3 linked regions of the Homo sapiens genome follow. Changing the gene in region 3 together with the main gene of any one other region gives a genetic interaction. Each region holds a gene or a part of one and is shown on either strand. Other genes may lie near its edges.

Region 1 (3,500 bases), on a different chromosome or scaffold from region 3:
TGCGGCTACTCGGGCAGATGGTCTCTGCAACAGGAAGGGAAGCTGTAGCTAGAACATCTGTTAACACAGTCTCAACCCAAAGCCTGCTTTGTTAGTGAGGGTCTTCCCTTCTCTGGTCCCAACCCAATTCTTCCTCTACCCTATCTCCTACTGATGCCCTTCACTCAGGTGACAAATACTGCCTGTCCCCTGCCCGTGCTCCAAGCTTTTCCATGTGTACACCTCTGCATGGGGCAGCATGCATTGTTGAAATAGCCTTTCCCCCTGGGTGGAAAGCCTAGTGCCTCTTGTGCACAGCTATCTGGTCCCTTGAACCAGGTAAGTAGTCTCCTCTATCATTTCATAACTGGTTGCAGCTGTTGTTCTAACCTTCACTGCGCACCAAGATAGCAGGCCACGTACAGAGAGCAGTTAACGGAGTGGCAGAACAGTGCTGGGGTGCAGGTATGGCTCAGCTCTTTGCACTAAGCCTGCCCCTGAGCCAGCTGCCACTCCAATTATGGCTTCGGATAGGTCTGCCTTTGCATTCCTTTATATTAATTTCACAATGTCCAGATCTGCTCTCAGGAGATGTTTTCCATCTCTCTCTGATCAGTTCTCAGCTGCTTCCATGAGCTACATCTCCATTAAACATTTCTCAAAAATGCCTCCTTTTCTCTCTCTGAATAGCCTTTTTTTTTTTTTTTTTTTTTTGAGACAAAGACTTGCACTGTCACCTAGGCCAGAGTGCAGTGGCGCGATCTTGGCTCACTGCAACCTCTGCCTCCAGGGTTCAAACGATTCTCCTGCTTCAGCCTCCCGAGTACCTGGAATTACAGGCGTGTGCCACGACACTCAGCTAATTTTTGTATTTTTAGTACAGACGGGGTTTTACCATGTTGGCCAGGCTGGACTGGAACTCCTGGTCCCAAGTGATCCACCCGCCTCAGCCTCCCAAAGTGCTGTGATTATAGGTGTAAGCCACCGTGTCTGGCCTCTGAACAACTTTTTCAGCAACTAAAAAAGCCACAGGAGTTGAACTGCTAGGATTCTGACTATGCTGTGGTGGCTAGTGCTCCTACTCCTACCTACATTAAAATCTGTTTTTTGTTCTCTTGTAACTAGCCTTTACCTTCCTAACACAGAGGATCTGTCACTGTGGCTCTGGCCCAAACCTGACCTTCACTCTGGAACGAGAACAGAGGTTTCTACCCACACCGTCCCCTCGAAGCCGGGGACAGCCTCACCTTGCTGGCCTCTCGCTGGAGCAGTGCCCTCACCAACTGTCTCACGTCTGGAGGCACTGACTCGGGCAGTGCAGGTAGCTGAGCCTCTTGGTAGCTGCGGCTTTCAAGGTGGGCCTTGCCCTGGCCGTAGAAGGGATTGACAAGCCCGAAGATTTCATAGGCGATGGCTCCCACTGCCCAGGCATCAGCCTTGCTGTAGTCAATCACTGCCCTGGGGCCAGGACGGGCCGTGGACACCTGCTCAGAAGCAGTGGGTGAGACATCACGCTGCCCGCCCATCTAACCTTTTCATGTCCTGCACATCACCTGATCCATGGGCTAATCTGAACTCTGTCCCAAGGAACCCAGAGCTTGAGTGAGCTGTGGCTCAGACCCAGAAGGGGTCTGCTTAGACCACCTGGTTTATGTGACAGGACTTGCATTCTCCTGGAACATGAGGGAACGCCGGAGGAAAGCAAAGTGGCAGGGAAGGAACTTGTGCCAAATTATGGGTCAGAAAAGATGGAGGTGTTGGGTTATCACAAGGCATCGAGTCTCCTGCATTCAGTGGACATGTGGGGGAAGGGCTGCCGATGGCGCATGACACACTCGGGACTCACCTCTGGGGCCATCAGACAGCCGTTTCCGCCCCGATCCACGTACCAGCTGCTGAAGGGCAACTGCAGGCCGATGCTCTCATCAGCCAGGCAGCAGCCAAAATCTGCGATCACCAGCCAGGGGCAGCCGTCTGGGAAGGAGCAAGCAAAGTGACCATTTCTCCTCCCCTCCTTCCCTCTGAGAGGCCCTCCTATGTCCCTACTAAAGCCACCAGCAAGACATAGCTGACAGGGGCTAATGGCTCAGTGTTGGCCCAGGAGGTCAGCAAGGCCTGAGAGCTGATCAGAAGGGCCTGCTGTGCGAACACGGAAATGCCTCCAGTAAGTACAGGCTGCAAAATCCCCAGGCAAAGGACTGTGTGGCTCAATTTAAATCATGTTCTAGTAATTGGAGCTGTCCCCAAGACCAAAGGAGCTAGAGCTTGGTTCAAATGATCTCCAAGGGCCCTTATACCCCAGGAGACTTTGATTTGAATTTGAAACCCCAAATCCAAACCTAAGAACCAGGTGCATTAAGAATCAGTTATTGCCGGGTGTGGTGGCCTGTAATGCCAACATTTTGGGAGGCCGAGGCGGGTAGATCACCTGAGGTCAGGAGTTCAAGACCAGCCTGGCCAACATGGTGAAACCCCTGTCTCTACTAAAAATACAAAAAAACTAGCCAGGCATGGTGGTGTGTGCCTGTATCCCAGCTACTCGGGAGGCTGAGACAGGAGAATTACTTGAACCTGGGAGGTGAAGGAGGCTGAGACAGGAGAATCACTTCAGCCTGAGCAACACAGCGAGACTCTGTCTCAGAAAAAATAAAAAAAGAATTGGTTATTTGTAAAAGGGTCCACACAAAATTCCTTTAAAAAGCCAGTTCCTGGCTGGGCGCAGTGGCTCACGCCTGTAATCCCAGAACTTTGGGAGGCCGAGGCAGGCGGATCACGAAGTCAGGAGTTCCAGATCAGCCTGACCAACATGGTGAAACCCCGTCTCTACTAAAAATACAAAAATCAGCCAGGTGTAGTGGCGTGTGCCTGTAATCCCAGCTACTCAGGAGGCTGAGGCGGGAGAATTGCTTGAACCCGATAGGCAGGGGTTGCAGTGAGCCAAGATCATGCCACTGCACTCCAGCCTGGGCGACAGAGTGAGACTCCGTCTCAAAAAAAAAAAAAAAAAAAAAAGCCAACTCCCAGCTGGGCGTGGTGGCTCATACCTGTAATCCCAACATTTTGGAGGCTGAGGTGGGTGGATCACTTGAGGCCAGGAGTTTGAGACCAGCCTGGCCAACAGTGAAACCCCATCTCCACTAAAAATAATAATCCCAGCGCTTTGGGAGGCCGAAGCAGGTGGATCACGAAGTCAGGAGATAGAGACCATCCTGGCTAACATGGTGAAACCCCGTCTGTACTAAAAATACAAAAAAATTAGCCGGGCGTGGTGGTGGGCGCCTGTAGTCCCAGCTACTCGGGAGGCTGAAGCAGGAGAATGGTGTGAACCTGGGAGGTAGAGCTTGCAGTGAGCCGAGATCATGCCATTGCACTCCAGCCTGGGTGACAGAGCGAGACTCAGTCTCAAAAAAAAAAAAAAAAAAAAATCAAAAATTAGCTAGGCGTGGTGGCACCTGCCTGTAATCCTAGCTACTCAGGAGGCGGAGGCACGAGAATTGCTTGAACCTGGGAAGCAGAGGTTG
Region 2 (3,730 bases), on a different chromosome or scaffold from region 3:
TTAGATTCTAAAGATTCCATGTTTATTCTCAGTAATTACAAAATCATTTCAAAATGTAATATTTCCCCCAAGCCCACAGTCCAGTTCTCAATCTTTGGTATTATTATGATGTTCCTAGTCAATCTTAAAGTGACCTGGAATTTCAGTTCCTTACCTTGGGGTTCTGATGAGTTTCCAAAAAGCAGTAACACATTTTTACCTATTTCCCTTTCTGACTAATGATATTGATTTGCATGACTGTGAACTCAAACTAAAAACAAAATTATGTATAGTTAGGTCATCATGATTTTAATAAAATTGAGAAACCATATTTTAGGACAGAATTTATCTGCTTTTAACCAAAATTTCACTATTGGTAGTCTGTTAAGGAAATTTCTTTCTTGATTCAATCTTCTTATAAAAGGCAGTTATTTCTAAATTGCATATCTTGATGCGAATTGGCTTATCAGATGCTTTTCCGATATAAAAAGGATTTGAATTAGGAAGACAATAGTAAAGATAGGCCCTGAAGATGGGAATTGATGAGGAAGGGGCTATTTTGACAGAAAAAAAGAAAAAAGTAACATCCCTGAATAGAGTCACAGACCTAATAAGAATGTCTCATTCTAGGCAGGGATCAAATCAATGACCTTGGCCTCATTAATGAATGCTATGAACTATTCAAGTGTACAGACAGATAACACTGAAAACTATTACAAATTCACAAATGGAAAGTATTCTGTCTCAAGAACAAGACTGACACAGTGATCATATCCTGCGTTTTATGGAAGTTTATGAAAAGTACCTACACTTACTCTGCAAATAAAAAAAGACCCTCCATATTTGACGTTGCAGTAATCCCATTCTCAACTCCACTCTGAAATTTTGGATGAGATCATCTCTTCTGGCACAAAGAGTATTATTCCAATTAGGATATTTAAGAGTTAGTCTTGGCAACAAGGTTGAGTTCATTATTGGACCTTGGCAGGTCAATTCATGGGAAGTGAAATGACAGGCGCATCCCTGGAGGATGGAGCAGAAGTGCAGAGGCAGAGACAAACTGCACTGCATAGCTGCCTTCCCATCCCTCTCCCACAATCTACATCCCAGACACAGGTCCATGTGCTTCCAATGGGATACTGTTAAAAGGTTGCCGCACATAAGACGAATGCCATTAAAGGTGTAAAAATTGTATCAAGGTCCATGCAGCCTAAATATGAAAGCAAAGGTAGACCCTCACCCACTCAGCCTTCGGTAAACTTATAAGCTCATATCTGTTTTACTTCTGCAGACACATTTGCCTCCTTGTCTCTGTGGAAGGATACTTTGCTGACATGGCAGGATACCTTGGGAGCCCTCAGGAGCTCAGAATAAATCTTCACTCTGATTATGTGCTTGAGAGATTAATCCAATTCTTGAGAAAGTCCATTCATCGTGCTCCCCTTTCCTCGACTCCACAATGGAGTCTAAAGTATCGCCCTTGTCCATCTTCTTTCTTAGGTTCTCCAAGGTCAAGTTAAACAATTTGTATATGTTTTGATTTTTTCAGAAGAAAAGGACTCAATTTAATATACTGTTATTACATTGCCAAATAAGCCATTCATTTAAATAAAATGTTTAATTTTGACGTATTTAGTGTCCTTATAGCTAATAAGGACTAATTGTAAAGCAGAGATAGATATCCTAGGCACTGGCACAAATTCCATATTTTAAAAGAAATTTCTAGAACTGAACTATTTGCTGAATTATTTTGCCAATTATTATTATGGACTTTCTATCCTGGGAAAGCTAAAGGAAACAAAAAAGCAAGAATTAAAAGATTTTCACATTTGTAACTTTTCATCATGGATCTAGGCTGTATAGGCATTTATGAAATTTATGAAGATTAATAGTAAGAATGTAACTGAAAAGAATTAGAGGGAGCACAGTTTTCCCTTTAATTTCTCCATCTCTGGTCATAACAAGCACAACTGTGACTTGACCCATTTCAGTGCCATTTCTGAGCTTCCACGATGCTTTGTTCAAACCTCTATTATAATATTCATCATGGTGTAGAACATTACTTTACTTTTCTGTAATTTTAATGGCAGTGGCTCATCTATGATATTCATCTTTGGAAACTTTTCCCCCTCTTCCTGTATTGCCTTCTCCTGCCCACTCCTAATAGTACCTCGCATAGAAGAAAAGCCAGGTAAACATTTGATAAATCAATGAATGGTGAACAAATGAACGAATGATGACACCTATGGAAAAGGATTACAGAAAATAATAAATTATTCAAATTGTTCTTTAATCAGTTATTGGGTGCTGCTGTTTTATATATAATCCTTAAAAGCTGAATGCCAGACAATATCTATAGAAGGGAAGTTAAAAAATCAATTTTCCTATTTATACTTCATTGACAAGCTTTAGAAAAGGACACATTCTCATTATGATCAATGGAAAAGGAAACTATTTGGATTTCTTATTTGAATATTATAAAACTTTTCTTTCTTGTGGAAGATCCAAATTCAGTTAACTTCACCATACACCATTCAGAAATGGAGTTATAAATAAAAGTGCACTCTAAGAAACACTTTTCTTCCTGTTAGAGTCATCAGCTAAATATTTTCATTTGCATGGGAATATATAAAATGATTACTAAAAGATTAATGGGAAGTCATAAAATATTTGTTCAGCACCATTCTCATATATTGAGCACATTTTCCCTAAGAATACTATTAGTAACTTTAAAATTGCTCATAAAACAGTAAGTTTCCACTTAAAAGTCCGGCAGAATACCTAATGACTAATCCACCTCTCAAAGAAAATTTACCATATGCCATGATAAATGTTCTATTACTTGAATACAGGCGTTCTAGGGAAATCTGTGTAGACTCAGATAGTTGTATGGCACTGTCATCTTCAACCTCCAAAAACCCTTTCTTTCTTGTCAGTGCTAGCTACAATCTAAGGCAATGAAAGAGCCATTTGTTCCACTCAACTTAAAACCAGTATTGCTAAAGTCATTGGAGAAGCTGGTTCCTCTCATTAGAAAAGATTCTAGACTTGTCACAAATTATTCCCAGACCAGAGGCCATGGTAAGACATGTTCCCTTTATTCTCTCTCCACCTCTGTGCAGGAGTTTTATCCCAGTAAAATAAAAATACAGTTAGATCTGGGGTTATCTCATTATAATTATTTGAAGCCTTCTGTTCTACAACACTCCATGAAGGTGTGGGTTCTTTAAACTAAAGAGAATCTCGATCATTCAAAACCTCCAATTAATGTCCAAACAGACCTTAATCTGTTATCTGGGATCTCGGTCAGATGATACCTTGATTCTGACTTCCATTAAATAATGAGCAAAGATTCATTCCAGTTGCCATATTTGATGTCTGAATTATTTGAATTTTTTTTTTTTTTTTTTGAGACAGGGTCCCACTCTGTCACCTAGGCTGGAATGCAGTGGCATGATCATGGATCACTGCAGCTTCAACCTCCAAGGCTCCAGAAATCCTCCTACCCCAGCCTCCTGAATGGTTGGGACTACAGGCATGCACCACCACATCCCGTTAATTTTTGTATTTTTTGTAAAGATGGAGTTTCGCCCTGTTGGCCAGGCTGATCTTGAACTCCTGGGCTTAAGCAATCTGCCTGCATAGGCCTCCCAAAGTGCTGAGATTACAGGGGTGTGCCACCACACCTGGCCCAAATTATTTGGTTTTAAACACTTGTTAGATTCCTAAGTGAATGGTAGGTATGGTAGAG
Region 3 (3,730 bases):
CAAAATGTTGGTACTGACCATACTCTGAGAAACTCTGCCCTATGGCTAAGGTTTTCCAGCCTTACAATTATGGATCCTACCTGTTGTTCTCACGGAACAATCGGACGCTGGGTGGGAGAACAGAGGCAGGTCGGTGAGAGGTGAACACACCAAGCCAATCACAGCAGCCTGAGACCATTCCTCTTTACGTACTTCACATATTAAACACATAAAACATCTATCATTTGAAAAGATGAAAAAAATCCTTGGTTATACAATGTTTGAAAACCTGTGCCTCAGAAAAAGAGATTAAAAGAAATCCCAATTTTCTGTGCTTCCAGAGTCTTCAATTTTAACTTCGAAGAATATAAGTGCTGGCTGGACGTGGGAGGGCTCTAATGGGTGAATAGCTGGGCTGTAGCCTCATATGTTGTCGAAACAAATGGAAACTTCTGAAACCCGAGAAGGTGCCTTTCAAGTATTTTTAGTTGGCAAAAGATAAGTGGTCAACATGAGAGGTGATAACATGATGTACATGAAGAACCAGTTACACTGTTGGTACTAAGAACGCAAGCATGTCACACTAAAGACTTGTAAGAGGACGTCAAAGAACTGGAACGAGTCATTGAAGTAGTTTTTACAGCAGTGCCACTCAAGCTTTAGTGCTCATCAGAATCACCTGAGGACCTATAAAAGCACAGATGACTGGGCCCAGACCAGTTGGCCTTGGATGGAAGCTGAGAAGTTGCGTTTCCAGCAAGCTCCCAGGTGATGCTAACACCGCGGGCCCAGGGGCTGTGCTTTGAGTAGTACTGCCCGAAATAGTAAAAAATAGTATTCCTTAAAATATGGTCAGTGAATAAAATCTATTTTTACTACATTTTCAATAAGAACGTTGAGCTGCACCTGGGCTCCAGGGTGCCTGTGTGTAAATTACCTTCATGTGTTATTGGTGTTTCCTAAATGAGGCGCCATTCATCATCTCCTGACAGATGAGATGAAGCTATTGGACCTAGCAAAAAAATAGGAGGCTCCTCCAATATCCGTCATACAGTTAACGAACTACATAAACAAATAACGATTGAGTCCTTACTCTGTGCCAAGCACAGTGCCAGGTACTGGGATGTAGCAGAAAATAGAAACAGACAAGATGCCTACCTCAACGGAGCTATTCTATTTGGAGCAGCTAGTAAGTGTGTGTTCTATCGAGAAACAGCAGAGTCAAGGGGACAAAGAGTATTGGTGGGGAGTTCCGTAATATACAGCAGCCGCGAGGCCTGTGTGATGAGCTAAACTGTGAGGAGGGCACCCTCAGGGAGCATCCATTTGTGTGCCAAATGGCAGAGGCGACAGCAACTCGTGAGCCCCAGGCAGGCCCCCGCCCAGAAAACGCAGCAGCCAGTATGGGGTGGAGCTTGGAGCAGGTGGAGCTCGGAGAAGAGGATGTCAGAAAAAGGGCAGGGTGGAGAGGTCAGGTAGGGTCTGCTGGGCCCAGGATTTGACCCTGTTGAGAAAATTTGACTTTTGAACAATGGAGTGACATGATCTGACTTCAGGAAGCCTCATGCTGGCTGCTTGTGAAGGAACTGCAGGAGGAAAGGGTGGAGGCAACACAACCCGGAAGGTTTTCAAATCCTAGAACTGCTGCACTGCCCAGAACATCGCGAACGGGCCATACCTGCAGGCGGTGTCGGTGAGTGCTTGCCGCAAACCTGGCACTATAGAAACCCTGTTTCCCTGAAATACCTCTTTTAATTCCTTGCAGCCTTGTAAGGTAGACCATGTTCATATCCTCTTTATAGATGAGGAAACTGCAGAGACCACTTGAGGAACCGACCCAGACAATTCAAGCCGTACCCAGGGACCGTCTCACTTCAGAGCTTATGTAAAATATCCAGTAGCCTGTGTTTTCCTGAATATAGCTATCAGGTGAAAGGAAATTTTGCATTTCCTCTAGATGTTTTGGTTAGAAAGTAGATATAGTCTTAAAATGGACCTTTTTGAAGAGTCATGTTAATTGATTTCAGCCAAGTAGTCAGATTTTAAAACTATATCACAAGGTATACTACTTTTTCAGAATTTTTTGCTTTTGAGAAAAAAAAAAGAAAAACTGTGGCCACGCTGGCCAGTCTGGTCTGGAACTACTGACCTCAGGTAATCCACTGACCCCGGCCTCTTGAAGTGCTGGGATTACAGGTGTGAGCCACCACACCCAGCCCCATGTTTTTGCTTATATGCTTCCAAAAGGAGAGGAGACATGTCATGAAATAGAGCGGGAAGGAGTGTCAGCATGCAATTGACAAAAAGCTGCGGAGAGGAATACCATGCCGGGGCAGCACAGGCTGAGGCTGGCCCCGTCTACCTTGTGCTTTTGTTCGTGCCTGTTTGGGTTCATGCCTCTGTGGGAATTGTTTTGCTTTTTGTGGTTGGTTATCTGTTTTGAAACATAAAGAAATAAAAAGTAACTGTGGGGGAGAGTAGGTGAGAAATGACAGCATTGGTTGTTGAAGTTAAGTAAAGTACTTGTAGGGAGCCTCAAAATGTTTTGATTTTTCTGAAGTCACCTCTGCAAGGTCATATTGTGATTTCAAGGGGAAGGGAGACATTGCATTCAAGACTCCATGAGGCCTGGCTGGACAGTGTGCTCTTCTAACGACAGGCCTCTACAAATGGTAGTGTCTGGGTGTCCCTCTCCTGGAGGCCTACATGGCCAGTGAAGCAAATCATTTACATCTTTTACTCTTCAAACCCTGAAGTGTTTCAGAGGACACTGCCCATATGCCAAGATGGGGAGATCTGCACTTGACAGGAATGAGCGTGGAGGCAGGGTATTTACAGCTGGGGAGGTCCATCTTGGGAATCATCTGAGCATCGTAATTATTGCAGAGTCTGCCAAAAATGCAGGCAGGCTGCTGGATTCCACTTTCTTAAAGGGAAGATAAAGAAAAAATTTCAAATTAAGTGGTAGAATTTAACTGTCTGTAATACACTCTTTTCAATCTTTCTAAATTTGTTCTGAGTAAATAAGGACTAATGGAAATTTTGTGAAATTTTATAGAAGGTGTTATTTTGTATGACCTGTAGCTTCCAAACATTTCATACATAAATCAAGAATTTATGGTCTACTTATGTAAGAAAAACAGAATTAATAAAATATCTATTATATAATAGAAAATGAAACCCTTATGACAAGGAAAATATCACTACATTCTTTTTTAGAGTACTTTTTGATAATTTCACAGAATCAGGCCCAAACTCCTACACCTTCTTCATCTATTTGACTATAATTAATTTTCCAAATGATACCTCTGATGCTCTGTAAGATCTTACAATTCTTCCTCAATCCCCAAAGGTTGACTACCTTTGGTGTTAGAGGTGTGTTATTAGATTCTAATTCTTTGCAAATTAATGCTCAATCTTTTCTGTGCATGATAATTAAACTCACTAGAGTCCCAGTGCATCAGTGGGGTTGTGATTTGCTTCCTGTAAGAAGGGAATCAAATGGCCGATAATTTACTTCAGTGGATTAAATGAAAATCGTTTGAACCAGTGTTTACCACAGTTCCTGGTATATACTACGCACTGAATACAGAATTTTTGTTGCTAGAAAATGCAGTCAAAAAGGGTGACAGACATTGATTTTGAATCCTTGAGCGCATTCATGGTACCTGGGCTGTGATGTGTCTGCCATGCAAATGCTAAGCCGACTGGCAGTAAGTGTGGGCCCCGGAGCCAAGCAACTTAGCCCGTC

What was found.
Region 1: of PRKN (region 3) and PINK1, changing one suppresses a phenotype caused by changing the other (phenotypic suppression), as found in Homo sapiens cells (one study listed by BioGRID).
Region 2: of PRKN (region 3) and GPR37, changing one suppresses a phenotype caused by changing the other (phenotypic suppression), as found in Homo sapiens cells (one study listed by BioGRID).

What each region holds. Positions count from the first base shown.
Region 1 is NC_000001.11:20,646,958-20,650,457, reverse strand, and holds part of PINK1 (serine/threonine-protein kinase PINK1, mitochondrial precursor), read right to left. Parts: intron 2,144-3,500; exon of another isoform or gene 1,954-2,143; coding exon 1,826-1,953; exon of another isoform or gene 1,464-1,825; coding exon 1,227-1,463; exon of another isoform or gene 25-1,226; coding exon 1-24. UniProt on the Homo sapiens protein: Serine/threonine-protein kinase which acts as a sensor of mitochondrial damage and protects against mitochondrial dysfunction during cellular stress.
Region 2 is NC_000007.14:124,755,696-124,759,425, forward strand, and holds part of GPR37 (prosaposin receptor GPR37 precursor), read right to left. Parts: intron 1-3,730.
Region 3 is NC_000006.12:162,255,656-162,259,385, reverse strand, and holds part of PRKN (E3 ubiquitin-protein ligase parkin), read left to right. Parts: intron 1-3,730. UniProt on the Homo sapiens protein: Functions within a multiprotein E3 ubiquitin ligase complex, catalyzing the covalent attachment of ubiquitin moieties onto substrate proteins. Substrates include SYT11 and VDAC1.